2 linked regions of the Homo sapiens genome follow. The protein of the gene in region 1 interacts with the protein of each later gene in a pairwise test. Each region holds a gene or a part of one and is shown in the gene's direction. Other genes may lie near its edges.

The links. The genes of interacting proteins can lie anywhere in the genome.
Region 2: the proteins of DAO (region 1) and KLHL42 interact in binary tests that used the Homo sapiens proteins (3 or more experiments, as listed by UniProt).

What each region holds. Positions count from the first base shown.
Region 1 is NC_000012.12:108,875,713-108,883,096, forward strand, and holds the start of DAO (D-amino-acid oxidase), read left to right. Parts: upstream 1-4,379; 5' UTR 4,380-4,512; intron 4,513-4,597; exon of another isoform or gene 4,598-4,679; intron 4,680-7,384. UniProt on the Homo sapiens protein: Catalyzes the oxidative deamination of D-amino acids with broad substrate specificity. Required to catabolize D-amino acids synthesized endogenously, of gastrointestinal bacterial origin or obtained from the diet, and to use these as nutrients.
Region 2 is NC_000012.12:27,783,189-27,790,232, forward strand, and holds part of KLHL42 (kelch-like protein 42), read left to right. Parts: intron 1-4,850; exon of another isoform or gene 4,851-5,020; intron 5,021-7,044. UniProt on the Homo sapiens protein: Substrate-specific adapter of a BCR (BTB-CUL3-RBX1) E3 ubiquitin-protein ligase complex required for mitotic progression and cytokinesis. The BCR(KLHL42) E3 ubiquitin ligase complex mediates the ubiquitination and subsequent degradation of KATNA1.

The sequences.
Region 1 (7,384 bases):
AACCACTCTTCTCACAGCCTGTTATTGTCAATTAATTTTGTATGTTCTTGAATTTCATAAAAGTGGAAGTATGCAATATGAGCTCTTAAGTGTCTGGCTGCTTCTTCTTAACCTAATGACTGAGATTCATTCAGGTTGCTATATATAACAGTATTTTCCCTTTTCATTGCTGTATAATATTCCATTGTGTGAATTTTTTTTTGGAGGGGGGAGTTTTGTTTCCTGAAAACACCACAATTTGTTTATCCATCCTCTGTCTCATAGATATTTGGTTGTTTCCAGTTTGGGGTGTAAATTCAAAATAAAATCCTAAGGGTCCACTAAATGAACACCCTTCTTGGCAAAGGGAACCCCAGAAAAACTTTAAAAACTTTGTTTCCAGCCATGATGAGACAGGAGGTCAGGCACACCACATTACACTCCCTTCCTTCCTTTTGTGGTTTAGATACAAGAAAAGATCAGCATCAATGCTAAAATAGAGGGCTGAGTATGGTGACTCACACCTGTAATCCCAGTCCCCTGGGAGACTGAGGAAGGCAGATCACTTGAGGCCAGAAGTTCGAGACCAGCCTGGGCAACATGGTGAAACTCTGTCTCTACAAAATAAAATAAAATAAAATAAAATAATTAGCCAGGCACGGTGGTGCGTGTCTGTGGTCCCAGCTACTGGGGAGGCTGAGGTGAGAGGATCGCTTGAGCCCAGGAAGCAGAGGCTGCAGTGAGTCATGATCTTTCCACTGCACTCCAGCATGGGTAATAGAGTGAGACTCTGTCTCAAAAAAAAAAAAAAAAGAGAGAGAGATTATAAGACTGACAGAACAGACTTTTTGTGGCAATAAGATACCAAATTATAAACACAGCCTAAGGCCATGTCAGGCAAGGGTTAAGTCAGGTGCCCCTACTCTTAAGGAATAAACTATGTTCTAATTATGTTACAAGATTTTTCTTTTTCTCTAGCAGCGAAACAAGCACTGGCCTCAGAAGAAGCAATATTAAAACAGTTACAACTCATCTAGCACACAGACACCCAACTGACACCCTGTTCCTCCAGTCATAACAACAACTACAGCTTTGATTGAACAAGAGACTGAGTTTGGTAACTTTCTCCTAATAAAAAGATCACTGACTATGGACTGCTTCTGGTGGGGTTACGAAACCGCAACCTCATGTGCCTGCATTTCCTGAAAAGACATTTTGATGTGTAGGTTCTAATTGTAATACATTGATTGATTGATTGATCAATTGATTGATTGAGATAGGGTCTTACTCTGTTGCCCAGGCTGGAGTGCAGTGGCACGATCACAACTCACTGCAACCTCTGCCTCCTGGGCTCAAGCAATCCTCCCACCTCAGCCTCCCAAGTAGCTGGGACTACAGGTGCACGCAACTGCGCCCGGCTACTTTTTGTATTTTTTGTAGAGACAGGGGTTTCGCCATGTTGCCCAAGCTGGTCTCAAACTCCTGGGCTCAAGCGATCCACCCACCTTGGACTCCAAAAGTGCTAGTATTATAGGCATGAGCCACCATGGCTGGCCTAATTGTAATACATTTAAATGTTAAGTCTCCACCCCAAAGTGAACATGGGTTGTATGTTACATGCACATTTGTTCATACACATGTGTTGGGGCCACCTTCATAAATATTCATAGCTTCTCCTGTAACCTGCTGGATATATCATTCAGCCAACCCCTTCAGCACAAAGCTCCTAACCCAACCCCTCCTCCTTCAAAGTGCCCGTCTCTGTTCTTGGTAGGAGGCATACTTCCCAGGCCATGGACTGGTCACCTTGTGGGCTATAACCCCTTATAAGAAATAAGATTTCTTCTCCTCTCTGAATTTACACATTTGTGATTTTTTTTTTTTTTTTTTTTTTAGTTAACAGGGGCTATGAACATTCTTACAGAAGCCTTTTGATTGATGTGTGTTTTCATTTATCTTGGGTATATATATAGGCGTGGGCATGATAGATATTAGGATAGCCATCTTTAACTTCAGTGGATGCTGGAGCAAGTTTCTGAATTTCAACTCTGAAGTGGGGATGATAATAACAGCACCTGCCTTACAGGGCTGTTTCGAGATTCAAAGAGAAAATCTGGGTAAGGCAGGGTGCGGTGGCTCACGCCTATAATCCCACCACTTTGGGAGGCCAAGGTGGGCAGATCACCTGAGGTCAGGAGTTCAAGACCAGCCTGGCCAACATGGTGAAACCCTGTCTCTACTAAAAATAGAAAAACAATGAGCCAGGTGAGGTGGTATGTGCCTGTAAACCCAGCCACTCGGGAGTCTGAGGCAGGAGAATTGCTTGAATCTGGGAGGCAGATGTTGCAGTGAGTTGAGATGGCACCACTGCACTCCAGCCTGGGCGACAGAGTGAGACTCTGTCTCAGAAAAAAATAAAAAAGAAAAAAAGAAAATCCAGGTATTTAGAATTGGTACACCGCAATTTACAAAACGTAAATTATTGCTGTGATGGCAGTGGGGAGCATGAAGATATTGGACTAACTTTTATGAATGTTCAAGTGCTCCCATGATGAATTAAACACACAGGGAACTTTATAAGGGCCATATGTTATATAAGTGATACATGACTATTGTATTAAAATTCAAACTAGTTAGATATAAAGTAAAAAGTGGGTTTCACCCTATCCATTTTTTATTATTGAAGAAAAAAAAATATGTCATAGCGTGGTGGCTTATGCCTGTAATCCCAACCCTTTGGGAGGTCGGGGTGGGATGATTGCTTGAGGCCAGGAGTTTGAGACCAGCTTGGGCAAAATAGCAAGACCCTGTCTTTACAAAAAGTAAGTAATTTGGCTGGGTGTTATGGCATGCATCTGTAGTCCTGGCTAGGCTGAAGCAGAAGGATTGCTTGAGCGCAGGAGTTCAAGGCGCCACTGCACTCTGGCCTGGGTGACAGAGTGAGATCCTCTCTCTCTCTCTCTCTCTTTTTTTTTTTTTTTTTTTTGTTTTTTGAGACTGGGTCTCACTCTGTCACCCAGGCTAGAGTGCAGTGGCTTGATCTTGGTTCACTGCAAGCTCCGCCTCCCAGTTCAAGTGATTCTCTTGCCTCAGCCTCCCGAGTAGCTGAGATTACGGACATGTGCCACCACGGCCGGCTAATTTTTGTATTTTTAGTAGAGATAGGGTTTCACCAACATGTTAGCCAGGCTGGTCTCAAACGCCTAACCTCAAGTGATCCATCCACCTCGGCCTCCCAAAGTGCTGCGATTACAGGCAAGAGCCACTGCGCCTGGCCTGACCCTGTCTGTTATCTTTTCTTTTTCTTTTTTTTTGTTTTCTTTTTTTTTTTTAGACAGAGTATCGCTCTGTAGCCCAGGCTGGAGTGTGCAGTGGTGCCATCTTGGCTCACTGCTACCTCCACCCACCAGGTTCAAGCAATTCTCCTGCCTCAGCCTCCTGTGTAGCCAGGATTACAGGCACACCCCACCACTCCTGGCTGATTTTTTGTAATTTTAGTAGAGACGGGGTTTCGCCATGTTGGCCAGGCTGGTCTCGAACTCCTGACCTCAGGTGATCCACCCACCATGGCCTCCCAAAGTGTCAGAATTACAGGTGTGAGGCACTGTGCCCAGCCGACCCTCTTTTAAAAAAGGAAAAAATACTATGCAGTGAGTATTTTGCATGCATTTTCTTATTTCATCTTCGTCTTTTTATTTGATGATACTAAAGGCAGGTGTTAGAGGCTGGATTGCTAAAGCTGACCCAAAGAATGCCTCCCTCAGGGCTGGTTGGTCCCTCTCTCTCAGGCCTCAGTCTTCCCATCTGTACAGTGAGGTGCCTGCAGATCTCTGGGCTCTAAAAATCACAGCTCCATGTTTATCCCTGGCAGAGGAAGGGCCTGGAGTCCTGCTGCTTGCGTCTCTGGGATACGGGAGCAAAGAGCCACGCATCCTCATGGCCCACACAGGCGTCACCTCCAGTCTCTCCTTGGCCTCATCTCCCCAGCGTCCTGGAATGGCATCGGGCTGGCCCAGGGAGCCCCTGTCCTGTGCCTCTCCTTTCCCCTCAGGGGCTGCCAGGCTGACCACCCCCACCGCAGGCCAGGCCTACAGTGCCCCATGGAACGTCCTGACCCTCCCCCAGGGTGGCAGCAGGAAGAAGGAAGAAAGGGGATCCTCTCCAGCTGGCCAGAGAGACAGACCTTCTTGTGCTCATCAACCCTCCAAGAATGCCTGCCCTCCCTCCTTCCCCCAAGGCCTGTCCACAGGGGCTTGAGATCAGCCAGAAAAGTCAGGCAACTTTTCAGGGACTGGGAGCGAGGTCTCCCGGCCGGGCCTGGGTCCAGTCTCTGTGGGCAGTGCAGTGCCGAGCCCCACCCCTCAAGCCGTGCCCTGTCCATAGCTCCAGACTTTGACCCTGCACTCCAGTCCGGGCTGGCGGACAGAGGGCTGGAAACAAGACGCTCCAGAATCAGGAGCTTCCCCTCAGGAAATAGCATCCTGTGTCCCCGCACTGCAGTTGTCTGGTCTCTCCAGCAGTTTGGTACTTCCGGTGAGTGGCAGATGCACCTTTGAGCTGGGGACAGGGGTTGGGAGAGGGGAGAGGCAAAGGATTTCATGTCCTCCCAATGTCAAAGACAGGGCTCAACATTACAGCCTAAGGCAGGTGACAGGAAAGGAGAGATCCAGCCTCTCAAACATCCAGCAGAGAGACCATAGGTAAGTGATTTTTCCCTCCCCAAGCCTCAGTTTCTTCACCTGGAACATGGGGATCATAACTCCCCTCTTACAGCGTGAGTCTGAGTGTTAAAAGAGGTGGTGCATGTAAAGTGCTTAGAGCAGATCTAGGCACATAGCAAGTACTCAAATGGTAGTTATTATTATTTTTGGTGGGGGAGTTGGTAGGCTGGTTCTCAAACTTTTATAGCTTCTGTTCCATTTCAAGGATAAACTCTGCAAATAACTTCATGAGAAGTAGCCGTGTGGTGCAACCAGGGAGAACTAATTATGTTCATTCAAATGCCTCATCTCTGGCTTACTGATTTTTTTTTTTAAAAAGAAGTCTTTCATATTCTTTGCTATGGGCACATAGCAATCAAAGGCATCAGCTGTCTCAGATTGCCTTCTAGGGGACAAGGGAGGTCCTAGGCAGATAAATGCAAGACTGAAAGACAAGCAGAAAGCATCAAGTGGCAACTGCATGCCAACTGCCTAAATATTTTTTTGGAGCAGTGCAGAAAGCGCCGATAGAACTGGGTCTAGGTCCGAATGCTGTCCCATACTGACTGCGTAACCTTGGGTGGGTGACTTCTCCTCCCTAAACCTCAGTCCCAGCCTCCAGAATGAGGGCGGTAACCTTCCCTACTTCCTAGAGCAGTTGAGAGGATTGAGAGGATTATGTCGGTACTGCATCTACAGGTGTCTGGCAAGTGGCAGAGACCAAAATACATTGGTTCCCTTCCTGCTCCACACTTACACAGACATTCTAATCACACACACACACACACACACACACACACACACACAAATATAATAATCCCAGCTGTTTGCATCTTCTGGGATACATACTCCAAGCTTGCTGGGTTGAAGTAATGATGTAAAACAGAGGAGAACGGCAACACTAATAAAAACATCAGCAACAACACGAAAATGTCCAACCGAATAACTGAGCTGGGTGCGTTTAAGTCCAAAAGCTCATTACCTACACGCATGAATGATTTTACCTAAGGCTGGATCTGCCACATCTGACAATCTGTCTCTGGCTTGTCATGAGGACCTCATGCATTTATTTTGTATTTTAAAACACACACACACACACACACACACACACACACACACGTTGCTATAATCAGTGTCAACTTTGACTCATATCTTGAATTTTTTTAAAAAAAGATAATTGACTTAGGACTCACACTTTTTTCCTTTTAAATTTTTTTTTTTTTTTTTTTTTTGACAGAGTTTCACTCTTGTCACCTGGGCTGGAGTGCAATGGCATGATTTCTGCCCACTGCAATCTCCACCTCCCAGGTTCAAGGGATTCTCCTGCCTCGGCCTCCCGAGTAGCTGGAATTTCAGGCGTGCACCACCATGCCAAGCTAATTTTTTTGTATTTTTGTAGAGACAGGGTTTCACCATATTGGCCAGGCTGGTCTTGAACTCCCGACCTCAAGTGATCTGCCAGCCTCGACCTCCCAAAGTGCTGGAATTAAAGACGTGAGCCACTGTGCCCGGCCTTTTTGATTTTCCATTCTATTCCTACCAACACTCTAAAAATTCCTACAGGCATTTTATTTTATTTTATTTTATCTTATTTTATATTATATTTTATGTTTGAAATGCAGGACTCTGAAGCTTCAGCTGTTCCTATTTACCGGCTTGATTCTCAGATTTTTCAAACCATGTGATTTACTGGCAAGCATGGCATTTAAGCACCTAGGCTTATGAGTCAGGCTGGCCTGGGCTCTGCCTCTCACCACCTGGGTGTCCAGGAGCTGATATTCCAGTGAGGAGACAATAAGGCAAGGAGCTTTGTCAGCTCTCATAAAAGTTTATAGATGAGGTCGGGCATGGTGGCTCACGCCTGTAATCCTAGCACTTTGAGAGTCTGAGGCCAGCAAATCACCTGAGGTCAGAAGTTTGAGACCAGCCTGGCCAACATGGTGAAACCTTGTCTCTACTAAAAATACAAAAATTAGCCAGGCATGTTGGTGCATGCCTGTAATCCCAGCTACTCAGGAGGCTGAGGCAGGAGAATCACCTGAACCCGGGAGGCAGAGTCTGCAGTGAGCCAAGATTGTACCATTGCACTCCAGCCTGGGCGACAAGAGTGAAACTCTGTCTCGAAAAAATAAAGTTTATAGATGAGGAAACTGAGGTTCGATTAGGATTAACCAACTCATCCTGGTTTGCCTGGGACTCTGATGCACTGACTTTTAGTCTGAAAGTCTGCATCCTGGGAGGACCCTCAGCCCTGGGCAAGCTGGGGAGGTTGGTCACCCTCACTCAGTCAAGTTGAGCAACTTGCCCAGGGTTACATGGCTGGTGTGTGCCCAAGTCAGGCTGCGAACCTGGGTCTGTCTGACTCTCAGCCTGGGCCATACTGTCTCTTAGATTCTTCATGGAGAATTAGGAAAAATACAGAAAGCCCTTTATTCCTCTGCCTTCTCATTGTTAACATATAAAAATGGTCAAGCGGGCGGGTGCAGTGGCACACACCTGAAAGCCCAGCGCTTTGGGAGGCTGAGGGGGGAGGATTGCTTGAGCCTAGGAATTGGAGGTGGCAGTGAGCTATGATTGTGCCACTGCACTCCAGCCTGGGTGACAGAGTGAGACCTTGTCTCTTAAAAAAAAGAAAAAGAGTGGTCAGCTCTCCGGAAATTATGCAGACAGTCAAAAAGCCCAGAGAGGGGAATTAACTTAGCCAA
Region 2 (7,044 bases), about 81 Mb from region 1:
TTAATAAACTAAGGAAGAGAAAATTAAGCGGAAGTGGATCATCCTTATCATCTTGACGCTGAGTAGGCTGAGGAGGAAAAGGAGGTAGAGGAAGGGTTGGTTTTGCAGTCTCGGGGTGGCAGAGGCAGAAGAAAATCTGAATGTAAGTGGACCCTCACAGTTCAAACCCGTGTTATTAAAGGATCAGCTGTATAAGTATATTGATAGTGGTTAACAATAGGGGAAAAGTGTTTATGTATATTAATGTGCACGGGGGTGTATCACCTTACACATTTTAAAAATTCTGAAATTGTCTAGGTTGTACTAATTATTATGGCACTTGATATTTCCATTTAACCATATCTGAGAGTTTTTTTTCTGTGTCAACAAATGTAGATCTACCTTATGCTTTTTTATTTTTTTATTTTTTTTGAGACGGAGTCTCGCTCTGTCGCCCAGGCTGGAGTGCAGTGGCGGGATCTCGGCTCACTGCAAGCTCCGCCTCCCGGGTTCACGCCATTCTCCTGCCTCAGCCTCCCGAGGAGCTGGGACTACAGGCGCCCGCTACCACACCCGGCTAATTTTTTTTTGTATTTTTAGTAGAGACGGGGTTTCACTGTGTTAGACAGGATGGTCTCGATCTCCTGACCTCGTGATCCGCCCGCCTCAGCCTCCCAAAGTGCTGGGATTACAGGCGTGAGCCACCGCGCCCGGCCTTACCTCACGCTTTTTAATGGCTGCGTGGCATTCCAGCCTATGGATGTACCATAATGTAATTAGCCCTTCCCTTATTTATGGACATTTAGGTCACTTCCATTTGCATTGGATGTTTCAATAAGCACTGCCATTGAACATCCTGGTAGATGCGTGCATGTATCTTAGTAGCCATATGTGAGTTAGTTTCATATGTCAAATTCGTGGAATCCCTGGATAGGTAGGGCAAAGTGTATGTGTTTTTTTTTTTTGTTTTTGTTTTTTTTTTTTGGGGACGGAGTCTCGTTCTGTTGCCCAGGCTGGAGTACAGTGACGCGATCTCGGCTCACTGCAAGCTCCGCCTCCCAGGTTACGCCATTCTCCTGCCTCAGTTTCCCGAGTAGCTGGGACTACAGGTGCCCGCCACCACGCCTGGCTAATTTTTTTTTTTTTTGTATTTTTAGTAGAGAAGGGGTTTCACCTTGTTAGCCAGCATGGTCTCGATCTCCTGACCTCGTGATCCGCCCACCTAGGCTTCCCAAAGTGCTGGGATTAAGTTGTGAGCCACCGCGCCCAGCTGTGTATGCATGTTTTAAATTTTGTTGAAGCTGGGTGCAATGGTTCACGCTTGTAGTCCCAGCTACTTGGGAGGCTTAGGCAGGAGGATCACTTGAGCCCAGGAACTGAAGGCTGCAGTGCACTCTCATCGGGCCCGTGAATAGCCATTGCACTCCAGCCTGAGCAACATAGTGAGACCTCATCTCTATAAACAGTTAAAAATAAATAAATAAATAGATTTTGGTTGCTCCCGCCAAATTGCCCATCAAAAAAATTGTTCTGATTTCCTCTTCCATCAAAAGTGTTTGTGCTTGCCAGTTCCCTATACTCTTGCCAAGATAGAATATTATCATCTTTTTTTCCCCAAACCTAATGGGCAAAAACACTAGTGTGATTTTTCCCAATTAGAAGAGAGATTATTCTTTTTATATGTTGGTTGGCCATTTGTATTTCTTTTGTAAATGGTCTTTGCCAGTTTCCTAAAAATTGGCTTATTTTCTTCACATTCATTTGAGAAGTTCTATGTGTGAATACAGATATTAATCTCTTGTCTGTTATGTAATGTCGTGCATGTTTTCCCATGCTGTTATTTTTTCTGCAGTGTTCAAAAATAAGATCCCAAAGTGACTGGGTAGGTGAAATTGTTGCATAGAGGGGTGGGTGGGAGTTATGATGAAGCTGAGAGCTATCGCCCCACCAAAAGAGGGCTCCACCTCTCAACCATGGCTGGTTACTTCTACGGGGAAGGGAGGAAATGTTGCCAGACATCCAAATATCCCTTTATTTTTTCTTTTTTAAAGAAATGGGGTCTTGCTTTGTCACCCAGGCTGGAGTACAGTGGTGTGATCATAACTTACTGCAGCCTTCAACTCTTGGGCTCAAGCAATCCTCCTGCTTCAGCCTCCCCAGTAGCTGGGACTACAGGCATGCAACACCATGCTTGGTTAATTTTTTAAAATTAAAATTTTTTCTTTTGTAGAAATGGGGGCTATGTTACCCAGGCTGGTCTTGAACTCCTGGCCTCAGGTAATCCTCCCACTGTGGCCTCCCAAAGTGCTAAGATTACATGCCACCATGCCTGACCCTCCATTATATCTTCTAATTGATTATTGATGCTGTATTGGAAATTGTACCCTTCTTTAGTTCCCTCTGCTTTGACTCAGGTATGACATATCTCCTAGGAGTTCCTTCCCGAACTCTGGCTTGGGCTGAGTGTTCCGTGTCTGCTCCTCTAGCATCTCATGCACATTCCCCGACTTGAATTGAAATTCTCTGTTGTTGTCTCTCTGCCTTCCGATCAGGAACTAGGACTTACTCAATGCTTATGTATAGCCCTACTCCTAACAAGATGTCCAATAATAATAGGTGCTTAAAATACGTGTTTTCTTTAAAAAAAACTATGGAATATATTTTTACATTATTGTAATAAAAGTTAATGTATAATTTTATATTTCGCTTTATTTGTAACACTATAGTGAACATTTTTACCTTGGTAACAGTCATTATATTTATTTAGAGTAGCTGAGAAATAATGAGAGACATCATTTAATTGAACACTTAACTCTGCAGTAGGTACTGTTCCCGCTGCTTTGCATGAATTATCTAACTTATTCTTCACAAGGGCTGTTAGGCAGGTTCCCATTCTAAAGAGACAGAAAGTGAGGCACAGAGAAGTAAATTGCTCAAGGATGTGTAATAAGTACAGCAACCAAAATGTAAATATCCATTGAGTAGTTATAACCACTTAAATTGTTTATAAGTTTTGGATTTTAGACTTGCAGGGACCATCTTCATGCACATTTCCCCCCTTCTTTAAAAAAAATTATTTCCTTCTAAAAAATAGAGCACAGATCTTTTGTGGTACAGTGCTACTTTTCAAAATTTCATCATGTGTGCCTCAGCTCCACGACAGCCTTTAAGCCCAGCATTCTTCTAGTCACTGTTGGATGTACAGAAACTGATGACGTAATTGCTGCCCTCAAGAAGTTTAAAATTGAGTTTAGGTGATGAGACAAGTAAAAATGAAACCTAGCACAGAGTTTTTCCTGGATGAGGCATCCAATACAGGTTATGCATGCACTGGAAGAAATTTGGAACCTTGAGAAAGAAAACCAGATTTTGGCCTCTGGCTATGCAGAATTTCACATCTACTTTGATTCACCTTTGTCGGAGACTGCTTTGGGATGTATCAGTATTTTACTTTGATAAAGGGGTCAAATGTAGAGCAGTTCACTTTTCCCAGGGACTGAATAGTGCAGTGATCCAGAATCTTAAATAGCAGGAACTCTGGGATTGAAAGAGTTTTTTTTTTTTTTTTTTTTTGAGACAGAGTCTCGCTCTGTCGCCCAGGCTGGAGTGCAGTGGCCCAATCTTGGCTCACTGCAAGCTCCGCGTCCCGTGTTAACGCTATTCTCCTGCCTCAGCCTCCCGAGTAGCTAGGACTACAGGTGCCCGCCACCATGCCTGGCTAATTTTTTTTTGTATTTTTAGTAGAGATGGGGTTTCACTGTGTTAGCCAGGATGGTCTCGATCTCCTGACCTCGTGATCTGCCTGCCTTGGCCTCCCAAAGTGCTGGGATTATAGACATGAGCCACCGCGCCCGGCCAATTGAGAGATTTTATAAAGCCTTCTGCACTCTGGAGAAGATAGTGGGTGCTATATGACCATCAGAGGGTAAAAAAGAAATGTTTTGCTCTGTAGGCCAAGTGTGCAACACTGCCTGATGGTCTGAACGTGGGTTTGATCTCACAAATTGTCAGGATGTAACTCTTCACACATAAAAGCTTGTGAGACCTCTAGGCACGGCGGCTCACACCTGTAATCCCAGCACTTTGGGAGGCTGAGGCAGGCGGATCACCTGAGGTCAGAGGTTCGAGACCAGCCTGGCCAACGTGGTGAAACCCTGTCTCTACTAATAATACAAAAATTAGCTGGGCATGGTGGTGGGCACCTGTAGTCCTAGCTACTTGAGAGGCCGAGGCAGGAAAATCGCTTGAAACCGGGATGGGGAGGTTGCGGTGAGCCAAGATCAGACCACTGCACTCCAGCCTGGGCAACAGAGTGAGACTTTGTCTCAAAAAAAAAAAAAAAAAAAGCTTGTGAGATCGAGGGTGCTTGCTTTCCCTTTAATCAGTGATAACTTGCAGGAACTGACCACTGTTGCAGCAGTTGGTTCATTAAGGTTCTCCATTTCCAGAGCTTTCTCTAGTCTTTTCCATTGCCCTGCACTTTAGCTCTGAAAATGGAGTTGGAGTGAGTCCTCCTGTTCCATGTGTGAATACAGCAAGGCTGAGAGAGAGACTTTAATAAACAAGTGTCTCCTGGCAGAGATGGAATTGCAGTTGTCAGCCTTAGCGTTTGCTGAGCTGTCCCTTCTCCTCTCAGCCAATGTTTACCATTTTTGGAGCATTTCTGTGGTTGATGTTGTAGTAGAGCCTGGGAATAGTGCAAGAAAGAAAACTGTACGTCTATTCACACTCCCCCCCAACTCCCCATTTAATTTTGGCCAACAGTTTAAATTGCTTTTTGCATCTTTGCTTTTGGAGTTTCTTAGAGCTGGGCATAGGTTGCAACAATGACTACCTCTATTTTCTAACCTTTCCCCTTCTCCCCTTCCTAGTCCCTAGGGGAAGTTAATGCGTAGGGACATGGCAGAAGGCAAGTAGATGAAGGGGAAAGAGGAGACAAAAGGACCTGGATGGCCCACAGACTTAAGCAGTCGTGTTCTGAGTGGTTGAGAAAGGACTTTTGAAAGGATCTTGGCATTTTGTTCTAATTTTTACTCTGATGGTAAGCAAACTTCTTTCTCTACATAGGGGGTCATAATGATGGTTTTCATTTCTTGAGCTCTTACTCTGGGTCAGGTATTGTAGTCACAACTTGAGGTGTCACTTCATATTAATGCTCACAACATCTCTGTGAGGTAGATGTTATTAATCCCATTTCCTTAAAGTGGAAACTGAGGCTCAGTGAGTTTAATTACCTTCCACATAATCACAGGGCTAGACTCGAAGCCACCCAGACCTCTGTGTCATCTTGCCTTCCTATGGTTGTATGTAGCTACTGTTAATCCTTGAGATCTGCGTGCTGGTGTTAAGCATGTTTCATGTTACTTAGCTTTTAGGGGTTTAAAGAGCTTTTTAAGCCACGCACGGTGGCCTAGCTACTTGGGAGGCTGAGTCAGGAGGATTGCTTGAGGCTGGGAGTTCAAGGCTGCAGTGAGCCATGATCAGGCCACTGCATTCCAGCCTGGGCAATGAAACGAGACCCTGTCTCTTAAAAAGCTCTCCTTTTAAAAAAAATTTTTCTTATAAGTGACCTTGAAATTCAATTGTGGTTTTATCCAATTTTCTCACTTAAAACAGAAATTCTAATGATAATATTTTTATTTATTGCAAGGAACAAGTATATAGCTATGATAGATGACTTGTTACTTGGTCTTGAAATTCTTCTTTTTACCTCGTGAACATAGTGTGTTAAATTAAGAAAACACTGTAGAGATGATAATTTTGAAAAGTAGTTGATAGCTTGAATTTATACCTTTACCATTCAGGAGGTGAAGAGTGGAAGAATTATTTTCAGAAAGTTGGAAATGAAGCAGTAAGTGATGAGAATTTGTGGATGAGAGAGCACAAAACATCACAGTCAGTGACTGTTGCAGTTGACAAATGAGAAACCAACGCTCCCAAGGTTAAGAAAAACTTAGACTTAGGACACCCAGAGAAGCACTCCCTAGAATGCCAATGGAGAAAGACTTATCTCTGCAAGTGCTGTCCTTTTCAGCTCTTACTGCATGCCAGATATTGTGCCCTTCTTATCCCTACTTAACAGATGAGAAAACTGAGGAACAGATCAACAGATTCAGTAATTTGTCTAAGGTCAGACAGCAATTGATGTGTGATGTCTGAGACTTCCCTGTGTAAGCCTGGACTCATAACCTTTAGCAGTATGCCTCTTTATTAAATGGTCTGTTTTTAGGTGGCAATTTCATCTTAAAACAAATTCAGCATTAAAAAGTGTTTCTCTTCAAGTGAATTTGAGCGTGTTGGGGTCTGGAGAGATGGAATCATTTACTTTAACTGCCTATTCATTGGTCTCAAAAAGAAGCCCCTTACATGTTTGCTTAGGACAAATGATTATGCTGGATAAATACTAAAAACTGTTTTGATCTTACAAAATTTACTATCTGTGTACCTTTGGGGAGCAAAAACAAATTGCGGCTGGGAAAATTTAGTGCTTGTTTACAAGCTTTATTTCCTTTGGTTCCCCAAATTTGCACACACAGAGAGGGCATCATGGTTGGATTTTAAGGACCATTGGCAGCAAGAAAGGTAAGCAGCAGGAATCAGGGACCCCCCAGTACCTGCCACCCTGACGTCTGTTGGCACAAAAAAGTGGGCTGGCTGGCTGGCTGGCTGGCTTTAAGGGACAAGACGAGGCTCTTGATGAAGAGTACTCTATTCACGCTCTGATTGGAAAAACAAACTAAAACACATTTAGATATAAACATGATAGGAACCTTTAAAAAATCTTAACTGTTTAGTAGGTGCCTATTACTAACCTAGTTTCCATAGTGTAATGCATCAGTTTTATTGAACACTTTTTAGGGGATCAAGCATGGGCTTCTTGTTTACTGCTTCTTCTTAATCTACTCCCTTATATAAGTTTTTTGTGTGTGCATAGCCTCTACCTCCATTCTTTCTTAGTATATTATTATTTTTGAAGACATCATTGTGTTGGGGTTGGATGTGGTCTTGAAATTCACTTGGTCTAGCACCTTTATTTCAAACACTAGAAAACAGAAATTTGAATGA